2 separate regions of the Homo sapiens genome follow, and region 2 is linked to region 1. The links come from fine-mapping of genetic effects on gene expression. Tissue or cell type: whole blood. Region 1 holds a variant in brackets; the other region holds the start of a gene. All regions are shown on one strand. Distances are from middle to middle.

Region 1 (8,186 bases):
CTTTATTTTGTTGACAAATAAGTGTAATTTATGTATTATGTTATAAATGCTGGTATCATTCTTAATTATCTCCTATTGAGGGTTTATGAAAATCAAGCTTTAAAAGAAAAAAAAATATCATTCTTTTTCTTTCTCTTCACTGCTCTGAGCCAGCAATAATGACAATGATAACTACTGATTTAGAAGATCAAAGTGTGCCTGACAAGTGACGCCCAAGATATTCATGTAACTAATTTTAATTATCTCAATCCTCCACCAATATTTTAATAAAACAAAACCGTAAATGTTTTTAAGATAAATACTACTAATGAAGAATTCCTTGTCAGGTTATATTCCAGGAAAAATAGAAAGGGTGGTTTTTTTCTTTGCTTTGCTTTTTAAGTGCTACTGTAGAACCCAAGATAATTTACATTTCAAACCAAATTGAGATGTGGAAAAAATAGACAGAAGGAAATACAGCTCTAGAGTGTGTGTGTGGGAGAAAGCACTTCAAGTATTTATTCTACAGCCAACTGAGAAAAACAATCAATTATACATAAGCCAACTTCATAGTTCAGGTATCTCAATCTTAAATTATAATACTAAACTAATGATTTCCCTAGTCTCCTAACTTATTCAGTATAATGAATTGCATTCAGTTGTAAAATGTAAAATTCAAAGAAATGCAATTAAGGTAGGTAAAGAGAACGGTTACTTTCAATCTAAAATGCTTTTTTTTTTAATTATTTTTTGAGCTTTCAAAAGTACTCTATGGAAATTAAAAAAAAAAAAAATTGAAACCCACAAACCCACACAGGCACACCCTGGAGATATTGTAGGTTCTGTTCCAGACCACCACAATAAAGCAAATATCACAATAAAGCAAGTCACACAAGTGTTTTTGTTTCCCAGTGCATATGAAAGCTATGTTTACACTATACTGTAGTCCATTACGTGTGCAATACCATTATGTTATTGAAAATAATGTATATACCTTAATTTTAAAAATATTTCATTGCTAAAAAATGTTAATGATTATCTGAGCCTTCAAGGAGTCATAGTCTTTTTGCTGGTGGAGGCTCTTGCCTCAGTGTGGATGGGTGCTGACTGATCACGGTGATGGTTGCTGAAAGTTGGAGTGACCGTGGCAATTTCCTAAAATAAGACAACAATGAAGTTGGCTCTTTCTTTCATAAAAGATTTCTCTGTAGCATGTGATACTGCTTGATAGCATTTTACTCACAATAGAAGTTCTTTCAAAACTGGAGTTAATCCTCTCCCAAGCCCTGCTGCTTCTTTACTAAGTTTATGGAATATTCTAAATCCTTTGTTGTCATCTCAACGATGTTCACAATATCCTCACCAGGAGTTGATGTCATCTCAATGAACCACTTTTCCTTTCTTCATCCGCTCAAGTTTGATCATGAGATTATAGCAATTCAGTCAAGTACATTTTCAGGCTCCACCTCTAGTTCTAGCTCTTTTGCTACTTCCACCACATCTACAGTTATTTTTTCCACTGAAATCTTCAGTCCCTCAAAGTCATCCATGAGGGTTGGAATCAACTTCTCCCAAACTCCTGTTAATGTTGATATTTTGACCTCCTCCCATAAATCATGAATGTTCTTGATGGCATCTAGAATGGTGAATCCTTTTCAGACAGTTTTCAATTGACTTTGCCCAGTCTGTCAGAGGAATCCTGATCTATGGCAGCCTTACAGAATGTATTTCTTAAATAAAACTTGCAAATAGAAATTACTCCTTGATCCATATGCTGCAGAACAGTTATTGTGCTAGCAAGCATGAAAACAACATTAATCTCCTTGTGCATCTCCATCAAAGCTTTTGAGTGACCAGTTGCATCATCAATGAACAGTAATGTTTTGAAAGGAATCCTTTTTCTGAGCAGTAGGTCTCAACAGTAGACTTAAAATATTCAGTTAAGCATGCTATAAACACATGTGTTGTCATCCAGTCTTTGTTGTTCCATTTATAGAGCACAGGCAGAGTAGATTTAGCATAATTCTTAAGGATTTTGGGATTTTCAGAATCCTGGCTTCAACTTAAAGTCACCAACTGCATTAACCCCTAACAAAAGAGTCAGCCTATCCTTTGAAGCTTTGAAGCCAGGCATTGACTACTCATCTCAGCTATGAAAGTCTTAGATGGTATCTTCTTCCAATAGAAGGCTGTTTTGCCTACACTGAAAATCTTTTATTTAATGTAGCCACTTTCATCAATTAACTTAGCTAGATCTTCTGATAACTTGCAGCAGTTTCTATATCAGCACTTGCTGCTTCATCTTGCACTTTTCTGTTATGGTGATGACATCTTTCCTTAAAGTTTATGAACCAACCTGTGCGAGCTTCCAACTTTTCTTCTGCAGCTTTCTTACCTCTCTCAGCCTTTCAGAATTGAAGAGAGTTAGGGCCTTGCTCTGGATTAGGCTTTGGCTTAAGGGAATGTGCTGGTTTGATCTTCTATCCAGATAACTAAACCTTTCTCCATATCAGCAATAAGGCTGTTTTGCTTTTTTATCATTCATGTGTTCACTAAAGTAGCACTTTTAATTTCCTTCAGGAAATATTCCTTTGCATTCACAACTTAGCTAACTTTGGCACAAGAGGCCTAGTTTTCAGTCTCTCTCGGTTTTCAACATACCTTCCTCACTAAGCTTAATCATTTCTAGCTTTTGATTTAAAGTGAGAGATATGCAACTCTCTCTTTCACTGGAACACTTAGAGGCCATTGTAGGATTATGACTTGGCCTAATTTTAATATTTTTGGGTATCAGGAAATAGGGAGGCCCAAGGAGTGAGAGAGACAGAGGCCCCACTAGTCAGTGGAGCAGTCAGAATACACACAACATTTATCAGTGGAGTTTGTCATCTTATATGGGTGTGGTTTGTGGTGCCTTAAAACAATTTCAATAGTCACCTCAAAGATCATTGATTACAGATCACCATAACAGATATAATAATAATGAAAAAGTTTGAAATATTGCAGGAATTACCAAAATGTGACACAGAGACACGAAGTGTGCACATGCTATTGGAAAAATGGCATTGACAGACTTGCCCAAAGCAGAATTGCCACAAACCTTCAATTAATAAAAAACACATATCTGTGAAGCACAATAAAGAAAAGCGCTATAAAATTAGGTATGCCTGTATTTGATTTCGTAAGACAAGTGAAATTACATTTAGCCATGTTACTCTGGGAAAAACAATATTAGCATAGAA[T/C]TGGTTATCCCTGCAAGAATACATAAATAATGAAAGAAAATTTGTTTTTCAAGTGATTCCCCCATAGCTATCCAGCAAGTTAACATTATAAAATGAGCATAACTCCTAGAATTTGCTTAGGACACAGTGTCTCAAGCTCAGTTCTACTAAGGTTCTGAACCAGATAATTCTGTGTTGTGTAGGGCTGCCCTGTGCACTGTAGGAAGTTTAGAAGCATCACTGGTCTCCATGCATTAGAGGCCAGTAGTACTCTCACCTCAGATGTGGCAATCAAAAATCTCCAGACACTGCCAAATGTCCCCAGGAGACAAAAGCATCCCAGGCTGAGAACTACGGGCTTAGACCTAAAAAATGCACTAGTTACACAGTAAAAATAGTAGCATATTTTAAACAATAACAAGTATATCTAGAAAGAATTAAGAAAGCCAAAAGTTGGTCCTTTGAAAAAATGAAAGTCAGAAACCACTGGTAAGATTGGTGAAGAATATAAGAAAGCACAAATGATTAACATTTTGGATGAAAATAGGAACACAAGGGCAGATGCTGCTGAGGTTGAACAGAAAATTAAGAGGCTTTTATAAACAACATTATGCCCAAAGCTTTGAAAATGAATTAAATGGATACATTCATAAAAAATAAAACTTGCAAAAGACAATCAAAAACAAACAAATGTTAAAGGATATTTCATCAGTAGCTAAACATTTCCACAAAAAGAAGCTTTGTCAAATAGTCAAGGAATAGGTAATTCTAATCTCACATAAACTCTTTCAAATAACAAAATAAAAGAAACCTTTCCCAGGTACTTTATGAGACAAGCACGACTTTGATTCCAAAACCAGACAAGGACAGCTAAAAGGGAAAAAGTATAGGCCAATATCTCTTATAAACAGAGATTTTAAAAACAGGATGCAAATACTAGCAAACTGGACCAAGCAAAGTATGAATCATGAGGAGGTTGGGTTTACATCATGGATGTAAGGTTGATTCAATATAAGAAAATTAGCAGATTAAAAGAAAATAGGATTATCTCAATAGAGAAAAAGGGGTTGATAAAATTCAACATCAATTCATGATAAAACTGTTAGAAAACTAGGAACAGTAGGTAACTTCTCTAACCTGATAAATGACAGATACAACAATAAAACTCTATAGCAAACATCACATTTAATAATGAAATGTTGAAAGCATTTTCTTTAAGATCAGAAAAAAAGGCCAAGATGCCTTCCATCACTACTTCTATTCAATATTGTATTTAGAGGTCCTAGCTAGGACAGTAAGAAACCATTTTTAAAAATAAAAGAATTCAGAAGAGGCAAAACTGTTATTATGTGCAAACTATAATGACTGAATATTTTATAAGTAATCCATGGATTGTGAATAAGATATTTTAGTAAGTCTGTTTGTAAGAAAAATCAGCACACGAAAGTCAATTGAAAATGACTTCATTCCCACTAGGATGGCTAGAATAAAAAAGTCAGATAATAACAAGTATTGACAAGGACATGAAGAAACCAAAACGCTTACACACTGCTAGTAGGAATGTAAAATGGTGTGGCTGCTTTGGGAAACAGTCTGGCAGTTCCACAAATGGTTAAACATAGAGTTATCATATGACTCAGCAATTCCACTCCTAGATATAAACCCAAGAGAAACAAAAGCATATGTCCACACAACAACTTGTACATGCATGTTTGTAGCAGCATTATTCATTTTAGCCAAAAGGTGAAAAAAAAACCTAAATATCTATCTACTGATTAATAAACAACATGTGATGTGTCCATACAATGGAATATTATTCTGCCTTAAGAAGGACGGAAATTCTGGCACATGCTACAACATGGAGGAACCTTGAAAACATTATGCTAAGTGAAAAAAGTAAATCACAAAAGACCACATATAATGTGATTCCATTTAAATGAAATGTCCAGAAAAGGCAAATATGCAGAGACAGAAGTAGACTGGTAGTTGCTTAGGACTAAACAAGGATGAAGGGTTTGGGAGATGATCACTAAGGGGTGCAGCGTTTCTTTTAGAGGTGATGAAAATGTTCTAAAATTATCTTGACAATTGCACATGTCTGTAAATGCACTAAAATGCACTGATTTGTACACTCTGAGTGAATTATAAACTAGATCTCAGTAAAGCTGTTTTCTAAAAAAAAAGTCAATTGTATTTCTACATCAGCATGACACTGTTAGAAAATATGCTTTATAATGCATCAAAATGCAAGTAAGCTCTTCATGGAGAAAATTATAAAATTTTACCAAAAGGAAATTAAATAAATGAAAGGATACACAAGGTTTATATATTAGAAGTTTTAATATCATAGAAATGTCAATTCTCCTCCAATTGTTCTACAGATTAATTGCAATTCCAAAATCCTAACAGAACTCTCTTATAGTATTTGAGAAGCTGATAGTTAAACTTACAATGAAGCCCAAAGGCTAACAATAGCCAAGACATTCATTAAGAAAACAAACAATGGAAATGTACTCTCACAGCTACCAAGACTTCTAAAGCTATGGATAGGCTTTAGTGTAGGGAAATGACAGGGCTCAGAAAGATCCACACGTGTACATCTGGAAACTTGATTTATACGCAGCAAGCATGGAAGGTCAAATTGGATATCTGTACCCATATTTCATATCCTGTTCAAAACCAAATCTAAGTGAATAACACACTTAAATGTAAAAACGCAAAACTATCAAGAAGACTACTATTTTGAAAACAGTATAGAACAGGAAAATTCAAAAGAACAGTGAGAGGAGACTAGTGTTAATAATATTAAAACACATAAAGAATCACACGTGGAAGCAGAGTGTGGAAAGATGAATAAAGGGGGCTTGGGGTGGCGGGGGGTGGATGATGGGAGGTTGCTTGGTGGGTATAATGTGCATTGCTCCAGTGATGGATGTGCTGAAGGCCCTGACCTCACCACAATGCAATACAGTAGTGTAGCACAATTACACTTGTACCCCATGAATATATACAATTTTTTAAAAATCATTAAGAACAATGTGGTATTGAAACGTGGGAAGACAGAATAGAAAGTCCAGAAATATACCACGCTACACGTGGAAATTTAGTATGATGAAAGTGGCCTCTCAAACCAGTAAAGAGGGACTTTTTAATAAATGATACTAAGACAACAGGGTATCTTCTACCTGTGGGCAAAAATAAAAACTAGATTGGATTTATATTTCACATCATATACCACATAAAACAGAAATGGGTCAAAGATATAGATAGATAGATAGATAGATAGATAGATATAGAGATATGTACTAAAACCACAGAGTACTAGAAGAAAACACAGGGAAATTCCTTTATAACCTTACAGTAACTCAAAATCCAGAATCTATTAAAACTAAAAGAATACAACAGCATAAAAATTTTATAAATCCTGCAAGGCAAAAAGCACCAAAGTCAAAAACATCACACCAAGTGAAATGCACCAGCTCCAAAGGACATATGTATGATTCCACTAATATGAGATACCCAGAGTAAGCAAAGTCATAAGGACAGAGAGCAGAGAACAGAGATGAGCAGAGGCTGGAGGGAAAGAGGAACCGGCAGCTATCTCTTCATGAGTATAGAGTTTCTATTTGGGATAATGAACAAGATTTCTGGAAATAGATAGTGGTGATGGTTGCACAACTGTAAACATACTTACACTGAATTATACACTTAAAAATTGTTAAAATGGTACATCCTGTTAGGTATATTTTACCACAATAAAAACAAATGAGGGTGACCAGAAAAATAAGCAATTTTAAAAAAAGACAAATGACAAATGAGGGTGGAAGAGTGGGCAACATTTGCATCTCGCATCACAGAAGAGTTTGCCACCCTAACACATGAAGAAATCAGTGAGAAAAAAGGCCAATAACCTAACCCAATTTAAAAATAGGCAACAGATGCAAACAGTTCACAGAAAGAAAAATTGCCCTTAATCATATGCAAAAATGTTCAACATCACTCAGAGAAATGCAAATTTCTATTTGCAAATGTATTATATACACTGAAATATATTTTTTATCTATCAGATTGGGAAAAAAGTTAGTAACACACTCTCATGGGAAAGCTATAAGTTCCCCCTTGTATTCTACTGGCAGGAATATAAATTGTTATATCTACGACTGAAGGCAATTAACAATATCCAGAACAATACCAACGCATACGCCCTTTCATCAAGCAACTCCACTTCTGGGAATATATATATCCTCCAGATATGCTAGCACATGTGGGAAACAGACATGTACAGGTTACGGTAACATTGTGTGCAATATCAAAAAGTCAGAAACAACCCAAATGTCCATTGATAGGAAACTGGTTAAATAAATTATGAAATTTTTTTCCGTACAATGGAAAATTATACACTATAAAAAACAAGAACCTCTGTTTGCAAATATACAAAGAGTTCTAACATATAAAATTAAGAGAATAAAGCAAACAGCAGAATAGTGTATCTACTACACTTCTTGAATTAAAAGGGAAGGGGGAATAAGAATATTTATATTGTATAAAGAAACACTGGAAAGATATATAAGAAATTCATAAAAACTGTGACTAGTGAGAAACGAAGGATGGAGTAAGCAGGCAACTGAGGCAGAGGGGATAAAAATGGAAATGAGATATTTTATTGTACTTTTTAATTTTGATTTGAGATACATGAATGATTTCTTCTTAAAATTGTTTTAATAACTTGATAGAGGTTTCTAATTCAAGGGTATATATATATTAGTTAGAACCCAAATAAATCCATATGTATGTCATTATATGTGTGACTTCTATCTGAAATGAAAAAGAAAACCCTAAATACTTATCTCTAGTTAATTAGATGCACACTGAAGTATTTAGGAGGAAGTGAACTGGTATCTGCAACTTAATGTGAAATGCACAAGAAAACGTGACGGATAAGTACGTGAATAGAGAGGTGGACAGATACATATAAAGCAAGTAAGA
Region 2 (8,186 bases), 21 kb after region 1:
TGTTAAAAGGCTGTATCTTATGCTTCCTGAGGTCGCGAATGCTTTCTACAGATCTACTGTCTAGAGTTTTCCCTTGCAATCAGCCATTTTCTGTGGTTTCCTGCTGTATGCATTTGACTCCTTTTACGGCCTTGTTGCTTTCCAACTTATCGCTTCGAATCAGTTCTGAGAAGCCAGGTAGTGAAATATGTTTGTGTGTTTGAAAACACAAAGCAACAATCGTGAAAAGAGGAATGCATACATTCTGAAAGGGTCTTTAGGAGCAAAGGGCACATAGGCTTTATTGAATAGAGAGTCTGGTCACTAGCAGAAGGTTAAGACAGTCAAAAAGCAACTTTCAAAAAAACGAGCTGTTGTTTTGGTTCTCTTTAAAATGTATTTAGATTTTTAGGGCCAAAATTTTTTTGAAAAAGGTAAAGTAATTCTATTTTGAAAAGAAATTCTTTTTTAAAATTCCTAAGAACAATGTCTTCAAATATTACAATCAGAAACTTCCCTGAATCTTAATAATTGCTTTATACCAACAGCTCCTACTCTATTGGTCCTGTAGCTTAACTATTCATGTCACAATTTAAAATAAAAATCATTAATGCTAATAATCTATTATTAAGACAAAACTAAATTACTATATGTGCATTAGGACATTATGTTAAATAAATTTGATTATAAGCTTGCTTTCTGAAATAATTTAAGGAAGAGAATCCACAGTAAAAATTGATATAACTGCTAGGTTTATAAAAATGTTTTAGGGTAATAAACTATAGCTTTCAAGTACCATATTTTAAAGTGAACTCTACAAGGAGTGGTAACTTTTTTCCTAACTTTCATTAGCACAAGTGGAAATGAGCTTAGACTTAGCAATAGGATGGGTCATGTTAGACAACTAAAATAGTCAAGCACAAGTTATCAAATATTTCAAAAGCATTATCCAAAAATAAAGGATACAGCCTTTCCTCTTTCAGAAAGAATATATTAAGAACAAGTTTGAAACTCTCTTATTAAAAATTGATTCTCTTCACTGCAACTGATAGAGAAAGTTGAATGGGAAACTTTACGGCTCGAGTCTAGAGATATACAAGGCAATCAACTGAATGATCACTAATATTCTCGGCCAGGCACAGTGACTCACGCCTGTAATCCCAACACTTTGGGAAGCCAAGGTGAGTGGACAGCTTGAGCCCAGGAGTTTGAGACCAGCCTGTGCAACACAGTGAAACCTCATTTCTACAAAAAGTACAAAAGTTAGCCAGGTGTGATGGCATGTGCCTGTAGTCCCAGCTACTTGTGAGGCTGAGGTGGGAGGATGGCTTGAGCCCTGGAGGGAGGGACTGCAGCAAGCCATGATCACGCCACCGCACTTCAGCCTGGGTGAAAAAGCAAGACCCTGTCACACACTCTCTCACATATATACACACTCCATTATATATATATATTTATTTTATGTACTCAAAATACCAGTATTGCAATAAAAATATGCTAACATACATTTCTCCCCACTGTAGAAGTGAATATAACACCAACAGTCTACTTTCACTGGGATGTGCATAGTAGTTAAATAGTTAAAGTCTTAGGTACCCCAAGCAGTAAAAACTGACTCAACACAATATGAAGGGAAAGATCTAAATCACATTGTAAATGAGTTATTTATCATCAAGAAGGTTGGTTTGTTAGTTTGGTATTTTTTACGCTTTCAGTACAGAGTTAGATACTGAAAACTACATCATCTAGGCTAGGCACAGTGGCTCACTCCTGTAATCCCAGCACTTTGGAGGCTGAAGTGGGAGGATCCCCTAAGCCCTGGAGTTCAAGGCTTTAGTGAGCTGTGATAGCACTACCGCACTCCTGCCTGGGTGACAGAATGAGAGCCTGTCCCAAAAGGAAGAAAAAAAAAGAAAAGAAAATTAGCCGGGTGTGGTGGTGTCTGCCTGTGGGCCCAGCTACTCAGGGTCCCAGCTACTCTGGAGGATGGGAAGATCGCTAGAGCCCAGGAGGTCCAGGCTGAAGAGAGCTATGATCACACCACTGTACTCCAGCCTGGGTGACAGAGCAAGACCTGGTCTCAAAAAAAAAAAAAAAAAAAAAAACAAAGAGGAAAGAGAGAACACACACAAAAAAAAACCCAACATCAATCCACATTCACTCAGCTTCTGCCTTTAAGTAAAGGCCTAGGGAACAGTAAGACAACTGAAGGAAAAAGAAGCACAGCTAAATTCAAAGTCACCGTAGGGCAGGTGGGGGTGAGGGGTCAGTGTGAAGGGAGAAATTTTCACTTGTATTCTCTTATTATTTTGCAGGTTGAATCACTTTGAGTGAGTATATCACAAATGACTCATCTAAATACTATCTTACTTCAGGCTGGATAACTGTGTGATTATGAATATCTTGGTAATAAATACTGAATGAAAATTACCAACGAGTTGAAACACAATAATATGTTTAACCCTAAAGCCATGTTGAACAGAAGGCCTTTCCTTTAAGGACGCTGATGAAGGAGAACAGTTCAGGTTCACATAGATTTGAAAACATTTCTGGTTATCTGAGCTTGTTGATGGTCTGGATTCTGAGTAAAGGGGAACTTACTTGTATTAAGATGAAGTCATTCAACCAAGACGAGAGTTGGAAGGCACAAATATTTATCAATTTTCCATGAAGACAATGGAAAGATGATCAGGAAATATGTTTTACATGAAAATGTTAAAGATTACAATTACCACATTCTGAAAGGCAACATATAGTACAAATGAACATCAGTAGCTACAGAAAACTAACAATGGTTAACTTATCCAGAAGATGCAGTGTTTTTCTGATTCTCAAGTTATCAGGTTATATTGTTCATAAGGATCTCACAAAGACAGATCCAATTCAAGAGCTTTTTGCATCTCCAAAGATATCCTGCTTGTTCTAAAAACCACAGGAAGCTATTTAAATTAGAATAAAACTTACAATACTTAATTCTGCCCCTAATTATAAATGGCAAAGAGGTAGGAAGGTCAGCTTGAACACCAAAGAAAGAAGACATGTGGGCCTTTTTCCAAAAGCTTCTGGATAGCTAGAATGATCATCCTTTTAAAAGAGAACATCTCTCACTAAAAGACAAAGTTGTTATATTTCTAAACAGCTAAAGAATAGAGATACAGAGATTCCGTGGCCAGAAAAAAGACTGAGTCCGTTTTAATTTTCCTCAATGACTAATTTGTGTCACAAGTACACAGTCCCTAATACAAGTGGGATTTATAAGGTTAAAAAAAAAAAAGAAAAGAAGAGCCTCTCACATCTGCATATTCCCACTGGAACAAGGAATACTGCTGCCTCTCTAGTGTTAAACCTAGCCACTCCACTGCCAAACTGTGAATTCCCCAAGTCCTTCATTTTTATATTATCCAGTGCCCACACGAGAGCCTGGCATATGCTAGGCACTGAATACAGAGAAATGAATGAAAGACTCAAGTGGTAACAGTGAAAACAAAATTGCATTTCCTCCTCCTGTTTAAGGGATTAAACCAAGAGAAAGAGAAGAGAAAAAGACTCAGGAATTGGGAGTATTTAATGAATTTTGCCTAAAACTTCAGTAATTCTCTAGATAAAATGAAATCATGCTAAACCACTTCATTGTTATACATATAAGAAGAAACAAATACGGAAAATTTCACAATTACGAAACCAAGTTGTTTTGAGGTTTATTTGATACTAGCTTCCTACAGCCTCAACTAGCATGTATGATGCTTATAAATTCTGTACAACCAATGAAAAAAAAACTAATTTAAATCATAGTGTGAAAATCAGGAACAAAATACTAATAGTTTGATAAACAACATAACTATTCCTTTCTCTCTCCCTGTGTTGGAGACTTCCTTAAATCAAACAAAACCACAGTTTAGGTGTGCCAGACTATAAAAATCATTGCTGCTTAATGTTAGTTGTGCTTTATATAACAAGCCTTATCTGCTTCTCACAAAAGTTACCACCCAGAGGAAGGTTTATTTGCAAGAATACTATACAATTTTGCAGCAGAATATTAGAGAATGTTCTGGGTGTTACTTCAATAAGAATTTCCAGCAAATCATTTTCTCCTAATACTGTTCTAGTTCAAATCCACCTACTGCTCAGTGGGGAATGGGAGGCTAAATTCTTAAGGCCATTCAGTCTACTTGGGGCGTGAGGGGGTGTGTAGAAAGCCAACAATCAAACGAACACCCTCTCAAGGCCTGGGTGCTTCTCTGAGAGCCAATGATTGCAAAATGAACAATCTTATTAAGATCCCTAATTAGCCCGAATTCAAAAGCAAGGTAGGCATGCTCCTTAGCTGAGCTAAGGATAAAACTTTCCAGGAAAAATTGAGGAGAAGAAGGTGGCAGGGATGATGGGGGCTGGGAGACTGCAAGGCCACAGGCTTGGTGGCTGGAAGATGACAACTATCCTAAAACATTCAAATGCCAAGGGGTGGAAGAGAAACGATGCCAAGTACATGAATAACCGGCAGCTGACCCAGCTGAGTACCAAACTCAACACCATCTCCTGAAGATTTCATGACTTCGCCCCCGCCCCCCATTCGCCCCCCACCCCCCTCGATTGTTAACATGAAAGAAAAACATAAAGAAAGAATACCTGTCACAGCAGGGCGCACCTTTCAACTAAGGAACTCCGGGTGGCTGTGTAGAACCATCCTCACCCTAGAAAGGGGGAAACTGAAAGAAAAAGCAGAACACGCCATTAACAAGGCCAGAACCCCGACTGCCATTCCTGGACGGGAGCCACCAACACCCGCAAAATCGATCGGTACGTACGCCCCGCGGCGCGGTCGGTAGGAATCACAGCCCCGGGCTCCTGAGGCCAACCGTGGCCGTCGGGGCCCGCCAGCGGCCTGTGCCTCAGTCTCCCAATCTGTAAATGGGGTGGGGGGCGGGAGGGGGACAGCGTCCCGCGCGGCTCCCGCCCCAAGTCCTCTCTCCTCTGGGGGTCCCGATGGTGGCGACCCCGCACGCTCCCCGGACTCGCAGCCCTCCCGGGAAGCCTCGGGGGATGGGGAAGCCCCGGTGGGGGGGGGAAACCCGGGCTGACGTCAGCGGGCTCGGCAACCCGCGGGCCCGGCCGGCTCGGGCCCGGGCAACTAACGGGCCGGCGCCGAGGGCCCGATGGTCGCCGCGGCGGCTCCGGACGCCCTGAGGCCAGGCGGCTGCGCCGAGGGGATCCGGCCGCCCGCCGGCCGCCAGCCGCCCGCTCATTCACTAACCTCGGGCGGCGGGGCGTCGCCCCTCGCCCCGGCTCCCCAGCCCGCGTCCCGGGCCGGCCCCGGCTCCCCACACCCACCGCCCTAGTATTTACCTCCGACGCGCGGCCCCCGCGCAGCCAAACCTGCTACCTGGGCCCGCCCCCACCTGCCCCGCCTCCGAACCGCACAGGGAAGAGGGAGGGAGCGGGGGCGGAGGGGGCAGCCGCCGCGCTAGCCAATCGTAGGCCGAGCTGCGCTCCTGAGCGGGCCGTGATTGGGCCTCCCTGTGACAGACCTTCCTCCAATGGCTGCCAGCCCGGCGCCGGCCGAAGGGACTTTCCGCTCTGTCAAGCTCGGTGGAACCAAAGGGAAAGCGAAGGGGCGGGGCAGAGAAGAGCGGCGGATGGAGGCGGGAAGCTCAAGCTGATTGGGCGAAAGGCTGTGGGTGCCGCGTCACCATTGGCTGATGCTGGAGCCGGGGCGGGGCGCTGCGCTGCCACCAGCTCCGCCTCCCGTGCTCCCGCCTCAGCTGTCAAAACTGTAGACGCTTAGGTTTGGGCTGGGTTAAGAGTCCAGATGAAGGTTGAAATAGGATTCCAGGATGCCGTGAGAGAGCAAAGCTTTAGAATCAGACCTCAGTTTGAATCTTTGGCGCTTTCATTCAGTGGCTGCGTGACCTGAGGAAGTCACAACCACGCTGAGCCTCAATGTCCTCATCTGTAAAATGGAGATCATAGTATCGGTTGTCTTACAGGATTGTGGCAAAATACCGAGCTAAAGTTCCTGGCACGCAGTACCAGCTCAGGAAAGGTTCATCTCTTCCTCCTCCGCAGATTCAGCCTGGGACGCTTGCTGTTTCCGAACCTCTGTTGCCACCTATCCCAGTTTGGAGGGAATTTTCCCAAGGATGGTGAAGAAGGGATTTCCACACGCCGCCTCACTCAGCCCCGCACCCCTGGCCACCAGCCAGGACTTAGGGTGTAGTTAAGGATCTTTCAATTAGAAGGGAGGCTTCTGATTCCCAAAAGCACTCAAAATATTTAAGGAAGTGCTTTTTATAATCAGTCCTAGAGCCTTGCTGCACTGGATACTCCTGTTAATTAATTTCTTCTCCTTTGACATTTTAAGTGCTAATTATAGGAGAAGGTGATTAACACTGAGAAAGGAGGAGGGGTGTGTGTGTGTGTGTGTGTGTGTGTGTGTGTGTTTTTAATCATGACACAAATTTCCCCCAGTGGAAAGTGACATGTTTCTGGAGATCCAGGGAATTTAAACCAATGAATACATAAAAACAGTCACATGAGTGATGACTAACAGTAGCAGTAGACAGGCCACCACTCTTCCTTGCCATAGTCATCCAAAATGAAATGAGCATCTTTTGAAAACCTAAGCCTCATTCTACTCCTGTCCCTCTTTTGTCACTCCTATCTTCCTGTTTTCCAGGCTTCATGACCACACTGCTGTAGGAAGCCATAAGTTGGAAATCAACGGGCCTGGCTTGAAGTGTGGCCTTAGGCAACACCGTTCTCATCTACATCTGGATTCTCCAACAAAGCTGGTAGGACTCAGAGGTCACAGTCCAACTGTCTGGAAGAAAATTTCAGCTGAAATTTGTTTTTGCCTAACCCATACGATAAGGAGGAAGGAGAAAAGAATGTGAAGGAGAGAGATTTGGGGTCCTTTTAGGCAAGGCAAACATTCTCATGTTACCACTGGGACCACTTCTCTTATCTGCACGATCTACATCCACTGGTCCCTTAAGGCATCTGAGTTTGCCACTCTGGACTAGAATATTTTCATGTCCCTTCTTTTTGTTTTTGTTGTTGTTGTTGCTGGGGTGTTTGTTTGTTTGTTTCTTTGTTTTGAGACAGAGTCTTGCTCTGTTGCCTAGGCTGGAGTGCAATGGTGCGATCTCAGCTCACTGCAACCTCCGCCTCCCAGGTTCAAGCAATTCTCCTGCCTCAGCCTCCCAAGTAGCTGGGATTACAGGTGCCTGCCACCACACCCAGCTAATTTTTGTATTTTTAGTAGAGACAAGGTTTCACCATATTGACCAGGCTGGTCTCAAACTCCTGACCTCAAGTGATCTGCCTGCGTCAGCCTCCCAAAGTGCTGGGATTACAGGCATGAGCCAATGTGCCCGGCCTATTTTTGTGTCCTTTCTGTTGATGGTGTTTGGTGCTGCTGAGGTCTCTACTTCCATAGGGCTTTCGTCCCCAGGCTCTGTCCTGTCATACGTTCACTGAATCAGTGCCGGGGCCTGACTTCATCTAAGGGATCTTCATCCAAGTCAAGCCTGACAAATGGGGCTTATCTCAATTATCATTTCCTATCAATTGGGAATGGCTGCTTAGAACATTGCGTTAAAGCTAATTCTGAACTTATATTCAGGCTCACCGGGAAGAGAGATATCTGCCAGGGGATAAGATGGGGAGATAGTGTCATGGTGCTATTATTTGCAGTCCTTGGTGAACCAGCCTCTCATTTTACAGGTAGTAGATGAAGGCCCAAAGACAGTAAATTACAAGCCCCTGTCACTCAGGAGATGGGCCGAGACCCTGATTCCAAGCCAAGACTCTTTCCACCTCTGTTAAAATGGATTCCCCAACTGAAATGCTCATCATCTCTGCCTTCCAAATCCTCCCTTCATGGAGGACCTAGTCAAAGTCCTTTACAGACATGTCTTCACAGAGGGCTCCAGCCCTCACTAATGACCTCTCTCAATCCACCACCCCACAGCCTCTTCCATCCAGCCTGGTCCTGGGTTCATGGAACTAGCGGTTGTGTTACTGAGCAGGTTCCAGGAAACATAGCAGTGTACAAGAGAGATGCCACACTCCCTCTGGCAAAAAAAAAAAAAAAAAAAAAGGCAAACTAAAATACTCATTAGATGATCACTTACTTAATTATGGCTGTGGTAAGCCTCAGAAGAAGAATCTCTCTGAGCATGCCTAAAGGGAGGTTGGCCACTCAGGGA

The links. PIP is the estimated chance that this variant, and not a neighbour inherited with it, causes the effect.
Region 2: it holds the start of CYLD-AS1, and the variant in region 1 is fine-mapped to the expression of CYLD-AS1 in whole blood (INTERVAL, PIP 0.96).

The regions. Positions count from the first base shown.
Region 1 is chr16:50,760,054-50,768,239 of GRCh38, reverse strand. All of the region lies in intron 5 of CYLD (CYLD lysine 63 deubiquitinase), which reads right to left. Among named protein-coding and RNA genes, the nearest start is that of CYLD-AS1, 21 kb to the right of the region's middle. The variant T/C (reference allele first, on the strand shown) is at 3,222.
Region 2 is chr16:50,739,261-50,747,446 of GRCh38, reverse strand. It overlaps CYLD-AS1 (CYLD antisense RNA 1), which reads left to right and starts at 4,700. Exons shown (of 7, transcript NR_184279.1): 1 at 4,700-4,776; 2 at 6,043-6,119; 3 at 6,653-6,767. It overlaps CYLD (CYLD lysine 63 deubiquitinase), which reads right to left and starts at 5,361. Exons shown (of 19, transcript NM_001378743.1): 1 at 5,323-5,361; 2 at 4,606-4,685. It overlaps MIR3181 (microRNA 3181), which reads right to left and starts at 5,142; the gene lies at 5,070-5,142. RefSeq lists an enhancer at 4,607-4,706 and a silencer at 4,947-5,546.